Linked DNA regions of Homo sapiens. The protein of the gene in region 2 interacts with the protein of the main gene of each other region in a pairwise test. Each region holds a gene or a part of one and is shown on either strand. Other genes may lie near its edges. The genes, in order: MACROH2A1 and ERICH2.

The links.
Region 1: the proteins of ERICH2 (region 2) and MACROH2A1 interact in binary tests that used the Homo sapiens proteins (3 or more experiments, as listed by UniProt).

Annotation. Positions count from the first base shown.
Region 1 is NC_000005.10:135,396,093-135,403,370, reverse strand, and holds the start of MACROH2A1 (core histone macro-H2A.1), read left to right. Parts: upstream 1-4,139; 5' UTR 4,140-4,309; intron 4,310-7,278. UniProt on the Homo sapiens protein: Variant histone H2A which replaces conventional H2A in a subset of nucleosomes where it represses transcription. Nucleosomes wrap and compact DNA into chromatin, limiting DNA accessibility to the cellular machineries which require DNA as a template.
Region 2 is NC_000002.12:170,794,213-170,799,601, reverse strand, and holds the end of ERICH2 (glutamate-rich protein 2), read right to left. Parts: intron 1,562-5,389; coding exon 1,490-1,561; intron 833-1,489; coding exon 708-832; 3' UTR 625-707; downstream 1-624.

The DNA.
Region 1 (7,278 bases), on a different chromosome or scaffold from region 2:
GGAGTTGGTTAAATTAACGATGGCCAAGCTTGTGGATATTGTGAAGCAGTAGTTCTCAAAATGTAGTCTGCAGTCCCCCGAAGGTCACTGAGACCCTTCCTGGAGGTACAAAAAGTCACAACTATTTTCATGTTAACATTAAGACATTATTTGACTTTTCCCTGTGTTGATCTTTGCACAAATGGTGCAAGAACAGTAGTGGATAAAACTGCTGGCGACTTACCACAAATCAGCAATGGCATCATCCCATACTCATCATCATTTTATTATTTATTATGAAGCACTCACAGCCAAAAAAAAAAAAAAAAAAAAAAAAAGAGAGCCAGTTTAACTTAAGAATGTCCTGATGAAACAGTAAAAAGCATTAATTTTATTAAATCTGACCCTTTGGAACACATTTTAAAATATTCCACGTGACCAAATGGGAAGTACGCATACAGCATTTCTACTAGGATGGTCATCTTGAGGAGAAGCACGTGTGCAATTGAGCTGTGAGTTAAACTAGCTGCTTTTCTCATGGAACACTAGCTTTTCTTGAAACAAGGGCTGACAGCAAGGCTGCATTACACTTTCATGGCCCTAGGCACTTTTACCTTCATGAGTCCCTTCTTCTATAAAACAATAGAAAAAAAATTTTACAACCGTGTTCGTAGAAAGACAAATATATTAACATTATATATTAAAATATTTTCTTCAATATAAAAGAACTAACTTTCATTTTCTTCTGATTTTAAAAGAAATTAAGACATTTTCGTGGGCCCATAAAGTCCTGGGGGCCTGAGTACTGTTTCTAATGGAGAAGCTACACCTGACAGACAAACTATGGGTATTCAGAATTGGGTGTACGTAGGGCTGAATACTCCACGAGGCACAGTTTTAATATACAATATTAATTTATTTGTCTTTATACCAGTGCAGTTGTCTTTTTAGTGGAGGAAAGGGCCCATGCAGGCAAAAATGCCTATGGCCCATGAAAGTCATAATGTGGTCCTTTGTTTGTGGTAGACATTTTCTTGAAAATGAATGAAATGAACCTGTCATTTCTAGGAAAATCACTGTGACATTATGTTGTCAGTGATAAACTTGAGCTTTCAAGCAGAAATTACAATTTTGGGAAACTCGTATCTGCCACCAAGAGCTTGACAACTTCCCAATACTCAAAAACCTTCAGATGAGATCAGTGGTGCTATTAATAGATGTGATTTTCTAATATTGTACAATGAAATGTGTTTACATTTGTAAGATCCGTATAAATCAGTGAACTGATATTTCCCAAATGATCAATGTATGATTTTACCAAATTATGCATAGCTAAAGGACCCAGTCAAGATATAAAATAGGCCAATGGATTTTAATGTATTAACTGAGTTCAAAAGTTTATTGATTTTTTTTTTCAGGTTCTACATTGCACTTAACCTTTAAGAAACGACTCCTTGCATTTTGGTGTGGTATGAAAAAAGAACATCTGTAATTATCTGAAAAGGCGATTAAAATCCTCTATTCTTTCCCATATACATATCTACATAAGGCTGAATTTTCTTCACATACTTCAAACAAAACAACATATAGTGACCGACTGAATGCAGGAGGAGGCATGAAACCAGCTATCTTCTATTACACCAGACATTCAAGAGCCGTGCAAAACTGTAAAACAATGCCACTCTTCCCACTAATTATTTTTGTTTGGAAAGTATAATTATTTTTCTAAAATACATTATTTATGTAATATAATTTCTTTCCATGTTAACATTTTTAAAATAAATTAATAAATATTTACTTTTTCTCAGTTTTTATTTCTAATAAAGCAAATATTGATAGATGTAACCTATAAAACAAAAGCTCTTCAGGGTTCTCAGTAATTTTTAAGAGGGTCAAGGGAAACCCAAACAGTTCCAGTAATGTTATTGTAGAACAACTACCCAGTAAAATGCTCATAAAGAACCATTAAGTTTAAAGTGCAGGTGACAATCACTAAATAGAGTAGAAACTCTGTATGTTTAATGTTAAGTGGATATAGATAAAAAGGCTGGAATGGGAGCAGGCTGTTCTCTCCTAGCAATGAATGTAGAGTGAGTTTTATTTTTTGAGCATTTTTATTTTTCATGTTTTCAGAATGAGCATAGCTTTGTCATTGGAAAAAAATAAAAAACCTTTAACAGAAGAAGAAGCAATAGCAGCAGCAGCAGCTGGTACCCCTCTCTGAGCCAGATTAGGGGAGGAGACAGGTCACCGAAGTGGAAGAACAGGACACACAAAGCGCAGGAGGAGAGAGGGGAGAGAAGGTGGAGGCTTCTGGAGAAGGATGAGGTCAGAGCTGCTGCACTGAACAGCTCCAGAGGACAAAGGTCCTAGTGTGTTCTATGAGAATGGCACGCTGTAGAGGGGCATGGAGGTGGGGCCGCCCCAAGATCAGCTCTTGGAGGAGTGTAGACTTTAATTCCACCTGGTGGTCCCTACAGAACGGAGAGTCCTTGCCCAAAGGCACAGAGAAGGATGGAACAACAATGTGGTGTGTGGGGGAGGGTCTCTGCACCTTTCCTGACATCTTTTCTTCGGGAGATCCTCATAGAACCATAATGCTTTGTTTTGGGACCAGAAGCATCATAAGCATCATCATTTTTCCAGCTTCATCTCCTGTTACTTTCCCCTTCACCCATTCTACTCCAACCTCACACTCGCTCTGTCTTGACTATTTTGGACACACTCCTACCCCAGCCTTTGCACTTGCTATTCCTCATGCTCGGCGCAGTTCTTCCCCAGACATCCACACGGCTTGCTCCCTCAATTTCTTCAGGCTTTAAATGTTACTTTCTCATAGAGGCCTTCTCTTGTATTTGAGCCTCACTCTTATCTCACACTTCCTATTCCCCTTCTCCGCCTTATTTTTCTCCACCCCATGGAGACCCTCTGACACATTCTCCCGTTTGTCTGTCTTTCCCCCACGAGACTGCAAACTACAGGAGGGCAGAGATTTCTGCCTGTTCTCTTGGCTGTTTCATATCCAGCACCCAAATCGATGTATGACACAAAATACGTTCTCAGTACTTAATCGAATTAACGAATGCATGAATGGCAGGTATTGGACATTGTTTTGCAAACTCTTAAAGTAAGGTGTAAAGCATCCCGGTGAGGTGGAGGTTACTGCCGCTGCGATTCCCGCGCAGCCTGAGGACTGGGGGGTGGGGGTGGGGGTCTCTAATTACCTCCATAATCCCCAGTAGCGGCACTTTAAACTTCACATCAACCCTGAGGGATGTGTATTATTATCCAAATTTAGTTCACAGCTGGATGGAGAAGTGGCTTCCGGCTCCACACTTTGGAGGGAGGGGAGTAGAGGGCAGGCCCCCATTTAAGTACCCGGGATGGGGCACCAATGCCTTCAGGCGGTAAACCAATTTAGGAAGACGTGGCGGGCTTTGTGGCGGCTCCTCCTCTTTCGGCCTGTCCGCAGTTTTTAAAAAACGTGTGTGATGATAAGGAATCACTGTCTACATTAGTAATTCCCAACTTGGGTCCGAAAGTGAACTTTTGCTGAAGCGAAGTAGCTAACCGCTTCCATGTGCAAGGCAGGTTCCAGACTTCGGGGTGAGGAGGATTAACTGAAGGACCCCAGGGGAACCGGGTGCGCAGTAATTGATCTTGGGGCAGACCAGGGCTTGGCGGTGGCCTGTATCTAAAGACAGCGGGGTCTCTGAGGCGGGGCAGGGGGGAGTTGGCATTGACTGGGGAGGGAAGAGCGATCGCTGGTAACAGCCATTGTGCCTTCCCACTGGGTTAGTGGGAAGGTTCCTAAAGATGCCGTGGCAGCGACAGTCCCGTGCTCAGAGCCAGGCACACAGTAGGCGTTCACTCGAGACGCAGAGTCTGGGACGCGCCCTGAAGAAGCTCCTCTCCAGGGGCCTGGCCCTTCCCAAGGACTGGGCTCTGGGCGTCCCCGGGGTCATGGGTCAGACCTCGCGTCCGGGGTGCGGGCTGGTGCCTGGGCGCAGAGCGGCCGGCGTCAACGGGTAGGGCGCGGGCCCGGGGTCAAGGCCGGGGCGCCGGGCGGCACGGGCGCGGAGGCCGGACGCTCGGGGCCGCGAAGGGATGTGACGAGCGGCGCGCTGTGCATTGTGGGAAGCCGGCCGCGAGGACTGGTTCCAGTTCACTCGGCAGCGGCGCCGGGCGGAGGGGGAGAGCGCGGGCCGCGCGGGCGGGAAGCGAAGAGGCGGGCGGGCCAGCGAGGAGCGCGGAGAGAAAAGGCGCGAGCGGCCAGGAGGGCTCAGGCCGAGACACCTTGCAGCTGCCGCCGCCGCCACCGAGCCGCCGCGTAAGTGCCGCGCGGGCCCCCTTGCCGCACTCCCTGTCCCCGCCGCTCGGGTCCGGCCGCGGGTGCCCGGGAGCGGCCCGGCCTGGCGCGCACCGGTGTGGTGCGGGCCGGGCTCGGGCCGCCGGGTTCGGTGTGGCCCACGCCGGGTCCTCGCGCGTGCACTACGTCCTCCCAGGCCTTGTCGGGCCGCGCGGGATTCCCTTTGGTTTTGTTCAAAAAAGAAACCTGGAAACCAACTTCTCTTCGAAACGCATCCCCCTGCCCGCGCCTGGGCGCTTTTGTGGGAAAAAAGCGGTGCTGGCGCCTACCCTGGCGACCCTTCCTGGGGCGGGCTCACGGGCCAGGCCCGAGGCCGCAGGAGGCCCCGCGGCGCTGGCTAGGCAGTCTGGGCCTGGGCACCCGGGAGCTGCTGTGAGCAGAGTTGTACTTGGTGAGGCCCCCGCCGGCCCGCGAGTTGCCGGCCCCGGCACAATAAGTCGGGCCCGAGCCCCGGGGGGCCGAGGTGTAGGCGTCTGGCTCGCTATCTGCAGGGAGGGGAAGGCGGGGGCTACTCGCGGGATTGAAGCCGGGCTGGTGCGGGGGACCGGGTTGGGGAGTGGTCCAAGGATGGGCTGGAGAGGGGCCACGGGAACCCCCGCTGCTCCCGATTGTCTCGGTATCAGCCTTTTGTTTGCTTTGTGGTAGGAAGGGTTTGCTTTTTTTAAAAGGTAACTCCGGAAGGCTGTAGGCTTCCCCGGGTGGAGAAGGCCAGCAGGAAAGAGCCTCGCTGGGGGTGGGGTGGAGTGGGGAGGTGAGTGTGCAGGATGCTGCTGGCAGTGTCACCTGACAACAGGTGTGCGACATGGCGCTCCCTACCCCCACTCCTGCAGGGGCCACAGATCACTCAAGGAGTTGGTCAGTACATTGCTTGAAAGGTTCTTTTAGACAAGATGTTAGGGGAAATGTTTCTGAGTTTCAAAGTGAGAGACTTCTGTACAAACAACTGGGACAAACCTTGAATTCAACAATTACAATGACTATAAAGGCCTTGTAAGATTTTAATGACCCAGTAAACAGCACATAAGAATAGACAATTAGAGGGGGCACTCCTGCTAGCTTCCCTCTTTTCTTCCACCTTTGTGGTTTGAGGTTTTACCGTTAAAGTAGGGGGTAAGGGAAGTGTTTTGTTCCAAAGCTCCCTGCTCCAGGGAGTCGGGCATTTTTTAACAGTCTTAGGTTTGAATGGGAGACTCGAGTTGTAAATTAGGTGGAATTCACCTACTGCAGGCCACCTTTAGGCTACTAGCCTGTTGTCAGAGGTGTTAACTCTGAAATGGACACCTCTTGCCTGCAACTGGAATTAATACCCATTGTACACATTTAACTAGAGTTGGGCAGCAGCATCTCAGTCTTGCACAAGAGACTCTCTGATGAGGATGAGTATGTTTTCAAACTTATTTTTTCTTAAACACAACAAAACTCTTGAAAGACTTCAAATTCTTCCCCCTTCTAGTTTTACAAGGAGAGAGAAATCTTTCCAGTCTGTTCTTTGGCTTCGATCTGTCACCATTGTTAATGCTGATCCCTAGATAAGGCATTAAGAGGGTTGTCTAAATGAAAATTGTTTGAGGCAGGCCTTTAGAAGGAGGCATAATTTAACTCACATTTTATTAAACTTTAAGAATTGTCTGGAACTTCACATGTGACATTCTAGTATACAACCATGCCACTGGTTTAGTTTTTACCAAATGGGCCAGTGTCAGGGAGTGACACATCTCCATCTGATGTTTCTTCTGGTCCCTGAGAGAGGCGAACTTGAGGAGCGCCTCGCATTCCTTCCCCACTGAGAAGCTCAGAGGGCATGTGTTCTGGGACCTGCCTTCAGAGCTAATGCGGCCCCAAGTCACCTAAAGGAGATTTATTTAAATAAAAGCATAAACTGAAAACCTCAAGCCGAAGAACCCAACAAGACTCTATATGTGTTGTTCATCAGAACTGCAACAGCCTCTGGTTTTATTTGAGTGTCCCCAAGGATTTGTGACAGCCTTTTCAGAGCCCCATTCCTAGAACATGGGCTGGGAAGGGGCAGGAGTGATTGGGGCCCAGATCTCTGTGGGTCCTTCCCATATTCTGTAGGTTTAGAGGTCTTTTGGGCCCTGCCTCAGTGCTTACAAGTGAGCCTGAGTGAGTCAACTCTTCATTCCAAAGAGTTGTATAGCTTGTTTGCTTGGACCAAACCTGTCAGGTCAGTGTCTCAGAGTCTTTCCATAAAGATTTCCTGAGAATCAGCTCCTGTTCAGGCACTGGGGACACAGCCGTGATTAAGAAATGCCTAGCCCCTACCTTGGGGGAGCTGACTTTGGGAGAAGGCAGGCAAGTAGCTGTTGTAAAATCAGTGCAAAAGGCCCCACGTAGCCCCCCAGCAGGTACAGTAACCTAGCCAGGAGTGAGCCCTTATCTGGCTTGGAAAGGTCAAGCAGGAGATGGCTGGGCAAAGGAGGGCAGATGGGGACAAGTGTTTGAGGCCTGGGGAACCCCATGTGTGCATCTTAGAAGAAAAGAACAGAGGTCATGTGGGGAACTGCCAGAGGCTCGGGATGGCTGAGTCCTGGTGCGGAGTCAGGTGAGGCTTCAGGGAGGGACAAACAGGACAAATCACAAAGGATTCTGGTCAGACCCACACTTTATCCTAAGAGCAACTGAAGGGTTTTGAGCAGGAGAGAGACAGGATCAGGTGTTCTTTTTATTCTTATTGGGAACACGTCTACTCGGCAAATAATGAGTGGATTCTACATGCTAAGCCTTATCAGAGTCCTGTCCTGTGAAGCCCACACTTTAACTTTTCTCTAAATAGCCTTCCGTGAGACTGGTTATCTTAAGAGTTTGGCACAACCTTTAAAAGAGAGAGGAGTATGTAGAAAAGTTTTTTTGTAAAGCAGGCAGGCAGTAACTTGCTGTTAAAATGTAGCAAGCTGCACAGTTCCTTCAGT
Region 2 (5,389 bases):
AGTTCTGCTTCATGGGTGTTACATTCTCTGGCAGGTAGGGAGAAGATGAAATGAACAATTAAACAAGCATTTCAGACACTGATACATGCTGTAAAGAACATACAATGAATGGGCTGGGCACAGTGGCTCACGCCTGTAATCCCAGAACTTTGGGAGGCCAAGATGGGGGGATCACTTGAGGCCAGGAGTTTGAGACCAGCCTGGTTGATGTGGCAAGATCCCATTATCTAGACAAACAAACAAATGATGAATGATATAAAAGTGCCTGAAATGGTGGTAATTTATAGGGAACTAAACATATGAATTCTGGGGCAATAATGTCCATGCACAAATCCAGGCTCTACAAACAAATAGGTGTATGATACTGGACAAATTATTCACCCTGTCTGTGCCTCAGTTTTCTCATCTGTAGAATGGCATAATAATAGTACTTAATGGGGTTGTTGAATTATACAATGTGTGTAGAGCAGTTTGAACAGTACCTGGCACACAGTCCTATGTAAGTGTTTTCAACTATTTTCCTCTCTGAGTAACTCATATATTGAGCTAAGGCCTAAATATTAGGAAGAGTCTTAAGCCAAGAATATAGATAACTTAAAAGAAACTGTACCAAATAAGGAAGAATTAGACTAAAATGTCACTTGTCTTTATATTTGCATGGTATACATTAATGAAAATACATGAAGCTTCAAGTATTGCAGCAACACTCATGATCCATCTTCACCTTCGTCAGAGCTCTCGTCACTCAGCTCCTCATCGCTTTCTCCTTTACTCTCACCACTGCTGTCTTCATCACTGTTTTCACCGTCTTGCTCATGATTCTGAGTTTTCTCTGCCACAGAAAGGAAGAGGATTGCTTAAGGTGTTTCTTAATATTTCACTCTGAAAAATAATTCTCCTTGCCCCTCCCTCTACCAAGAAATACATATATTTGTAACATAAGAACTGAGTTGGACTTGGCTAACTGCACTAGGGTCAAATGGTAGTACAAAGAAGAAATGTATTTTTACTGGCATACAGGTGTTTTTGATAATTTAAAACATAAGTCTATAAAAATAATTTTACTATTGTCAATGAAATTCTATTTAACGATTTCATAGAATTCTTTCTATCATAGAATTTTATTGACAATAGTAAAATTGTCCATTGAAAGGAATTGAGACAAGGTAATTGAGAGGGTGTGGCTTCCCTTGGAATTGTGGGTAATTCCTTTAACACGCAGCCGTGTTAGCATATTCTGCTTGTCAATACCTGATGCCTGGTGCCCAGGGAGCCTGCTCTGCTCGGGCAGTTCTATCCCACAGAGAGAAGGGGGTCATTGTGACCATCCACAGAGGACAAGCTGTTTCACTAAACCATTTAAGACAGCCATTTAGCCTTTTCTTAACCACTTCCTAAAGATGTATCGACAATCTCCCGGGATAATGGGTTTTTAAAGTGACTGCTTATAGTTCTATGAGAAACAAGGAATTTCAATTTTTAAAATTACCCATCAGCAACATTTCTTCAATAAGTGTGAAAAACTCCTTGGCCTCAGGATTTTCTGGTTCATAGATTAGGACTGAAAATGAAAATGGACAACAGAATGTGTGTTATTAACGTTCAGTGTTGCAGCAAACAGGCTCCTTAGAATGAAATTGAACTGTCAGTCAGAGCAGGTGAAAGGCACAATGCAATAAACACTAACAATTATACCACAGGTATATCTGAGTACAAATAGAGAAAATTCTGCACTTCTATTTTGCACTTTGGAAGATAAATGATCCTCACTATATTTTCTTTCTTTCTTTTTTTTTTTTTTTTTTTCCCTGAGACAGGGTGTCGCTCTGTTACCCAGACTGGAGTGCAGTGGCATGATCTTGGCTCACTGCAGCCTCTGCCTCCCGGGTTCAAGTGATTCTCGTGCCTCAGTTTCCTGAGTAGCTACAGGTGTGTGCCACCACGCCTGGCTAAGTTTTGTATTTTTGGTAGAGACAGGGTTTCACCATGTTGCCCAGGCTAGTCTCAAACTCCTGACCTCAGGTGATCCACCCACCTCGGCCTCCCAAAGTGCTGGGATTACAGGCATGAGACACTGCACCCAGCCCTCATTATATTTTCTACCTCCTATCCATAGAAAGCAATCTCTATCACCTCAATATAGCTTCCCTCATAGGACAGTAGCCAGAGTGTTTCATGAACATAATCATTTCCCAAAGAAGGTACAAATTCTGCAAAATATGGAGACTTTGCTAATGAGAAGACTGTGTGCCTAGAGGTCTGTTAATCCTTCATCTCATGTCATCCACCCATCTACATGACATCCTTTACTAAAGGTCTCATCGGAACACAGAGGAAGTTTTTGTTTGTTTGTTTTTAATGCAACCTCTTCCATGCTAGAGATGCCATTTTGTTACATCTTTCCAATAGGGGAACTGATGTTACTTCTTTCTCTTCATCTTGACAACTTTTACTGTAGTCTACACGTTGGTCATTGCCTGCTTAACAACATTCTCCACCTTCATTGGACCCATTGTTTTCAGTACTATTTATTCCTTTCTGCTGATCCTTTATGTCACTGTGTCACCTTTCTTTTGGACCACAACAATAGACTTTTTTAGGCTTGTTAGTATGTTAGCAAAATCCTAGAGGCCAGAAAGATTTATACCCTTAGTTTCAGAGTTGTCTAGACTATTTTATTCACTTTTTTAGATCTCGCTCCACAGATCTCTCTCTACTTCTTCCTACCAGCCTTGAGGAGTATTCATAATTTTGCATCATCCGTTTAATATTGTGACTCCTGCTCAATATCTTGGTGGCCTCCAAGGGGGGCACTGAAACATCAAGTGTGCTCTTCATCTGGCTAAAAGTAAGACACAATTGTGAGGCTGGGCATGGTGGCTCACACTTGTAATCCCAGCACTTTGGGAGGCTGAGGCAGGTGGATCATTTGAGCTCAGGAGTTCAAGACCAGCCTTCGCAACCTGCTGAAACCCTGTCTCTACAAAAAAATACAAAAATTAGCTGGGCGTGGTAACACGTGCTTGTAGTCCCAGCTCCTTCGGAGGCCGAGGCAGGAGGATGACATGAACCTAGGAGATGGAGGTTGCAGTGGGTTGAAATCGTGCCACTGCATCCCAGCCTAAGTGACTGAGGGAGACGCTGTCTCAAAAAAAAAAAAACAAAAAAAAAAACAAAGAGAGAGAGAGAGATAACCATTGTGGATTGTTCAATTAGACCCCATTGGCTCATAGGATCCCACCCATGGCTTTCATCTTGATACACAAAAAAGGGACTTTATTTCCTAATCTACTAACATAACTAACAATTTGTCATCAATCTGGGTTAGCATGACTGCGTGCCTGCTTAGAAGCTGCTTTTAAGGATCCTGTAAGTATTTTATGTATCATTATACATACCCATAAGGTTTCTGAGCAAAGTAATTTTTTGCACATTTTACCTTGGACTAAAATATGCTTATCATTAATAGTCTAAATCTCTGAGGCTAAGCTTCTTTCCAGAAGAGGGTTTCTCCAGCTTGCTTCTTTAGATACTAGTTTCTTTAAAAGTATACTGTAGGCTAATAGGAAAGAGTGAGTTATTTTATTCAAAAATAAATAGAAGATTTTGTAGGAACTATATTTTTGGAAGATACAGTATATCTGTATTTGCATTAGACATATAATGGCATGAAGTATTTTGGTTTTTGAGCCATTATTCTTTAACATTTACAACTGATGATTTATTAAATAAATCTTCCGGACCTCCATGTATTATGTAGAGAATCTCAGGCTGCCTGGGAGCAGAAGTGTGGTACCCTAAAGAGACTGAGCTGCAGGCTTTTGACTTACAGGTGAAGTGACCAAAAAATAGGAAGATTGATTGGCACCAAATCTCATAGTCACTCATGAGATGAATGGAGAAACGTAAAGTACTTTGGACTCTTGACTTTCAGTTCCATTTAAAAACCACTTTTGGACAGGTGCAGTGGCTGATGCCTGTAATCCCAACACTTCGGGAGGCTGAGGTGGAAGGATCCTTGAGCCCAGGAGTTTGAGACCAACCTGGGCAATGTGGTGAAACCCCGCCTCTACAAAAAATACAAAAATTACCTGGGCATGGTTTTACGTGTCCACAGTCCCAGCTACTTGAGAGGCCGAGGTGGTAGGATCCCTTGAGCATGGGAGTTCAAGGCTGAAGTGAGCTGTGATCACACCACTGCACTCCAGCCTGGGTGACAGAGTGAGACCGTGCCTCAAAAATAGTAATAATAATACTTCAGTGTTTTTATAAAAATAGAGAATTGAACATGATTCTATCAGGATTCCTTCTAATTTGAAATTCTGGCTGGATGCAGTGACTCTCATCTGTAATCCCATTGCTTTGGGAGGCCATGGCAGACAGATCACTTGAGCCTAGCAGTTCAAGACCAGCCTGGAGAATATGGCAAAACTCATCTCTACAAAAAATACAAAAATTAGTGGGTGTGGTGGTACACACCTGTAGTCCCAGCTACTAGGGAGGCTGAGGTGGGAGGATTGCCTGAGCTGGGAGATTGAGACTGCAGTGGCTGACATTGTGCCACTGCACTCCAGCCTGGGTGACAAAGCAAGACCCTGTCTCAAAAAAAATTCTATATTTGTGGGTCACCAAAAATAAGTTTGACTAAAATATTTTATTCAATGGCTCTAAAGGTCAAAAGTGCTTGAAAGGATTATTTACCTCAGATACAAGATAGGAAGTGTTGAAGTATTCAAGAAACCAATTTGTAAAATGAGCCAATGATCTAGAAGTACTCTATCCACAGTTGGGACTCTTGTGAGGCAAGCCAGGGCAGACCGTCACTCAATCCTTGTGCTACATTTTCACTTAAGGACTTTACTGTAAGAATGAATTTAAGTTTAACACTGCTTAATATTTTGAGTCTTGTTGTCAACAAGTTTAATTGTAGAGTTGCTATTTTCTCTTTTTTAACGTATTATCACTAATATGTTAGAAGAAAAAGATGCATAAAATAGTTGAAAAGATGATAGAGTTCAACAAAGAACCAGAATCTTTCCAGATCATTAAATGGAAATTCTAAAATTGGAAAAGACAACCTTGGACTCACTAAATAGTTTTAACAGCATATTGGATACAGCAGAAGATAGAATAAAGAAACCAAAAACAGGTAGATAGAAAATATTAAAACTGACACATAGAAATAAAAGAAAGAGAGCCAGGTGCTATGGCTCACCCTGTAATCCCAGCACTTTGGGAGGCTGAGGCAGGAGAATCACTTGAGGCCAAGAGTTCGAGACCAGCCTGGCCAACATGGTAAAACCCCCATCTCTACTAAAAATACAAAAATTAGCCAGGCATGGTGGCACAAGCCTGTAATCCCAGCTGCTTATGAGGCTGAAGCATAAGA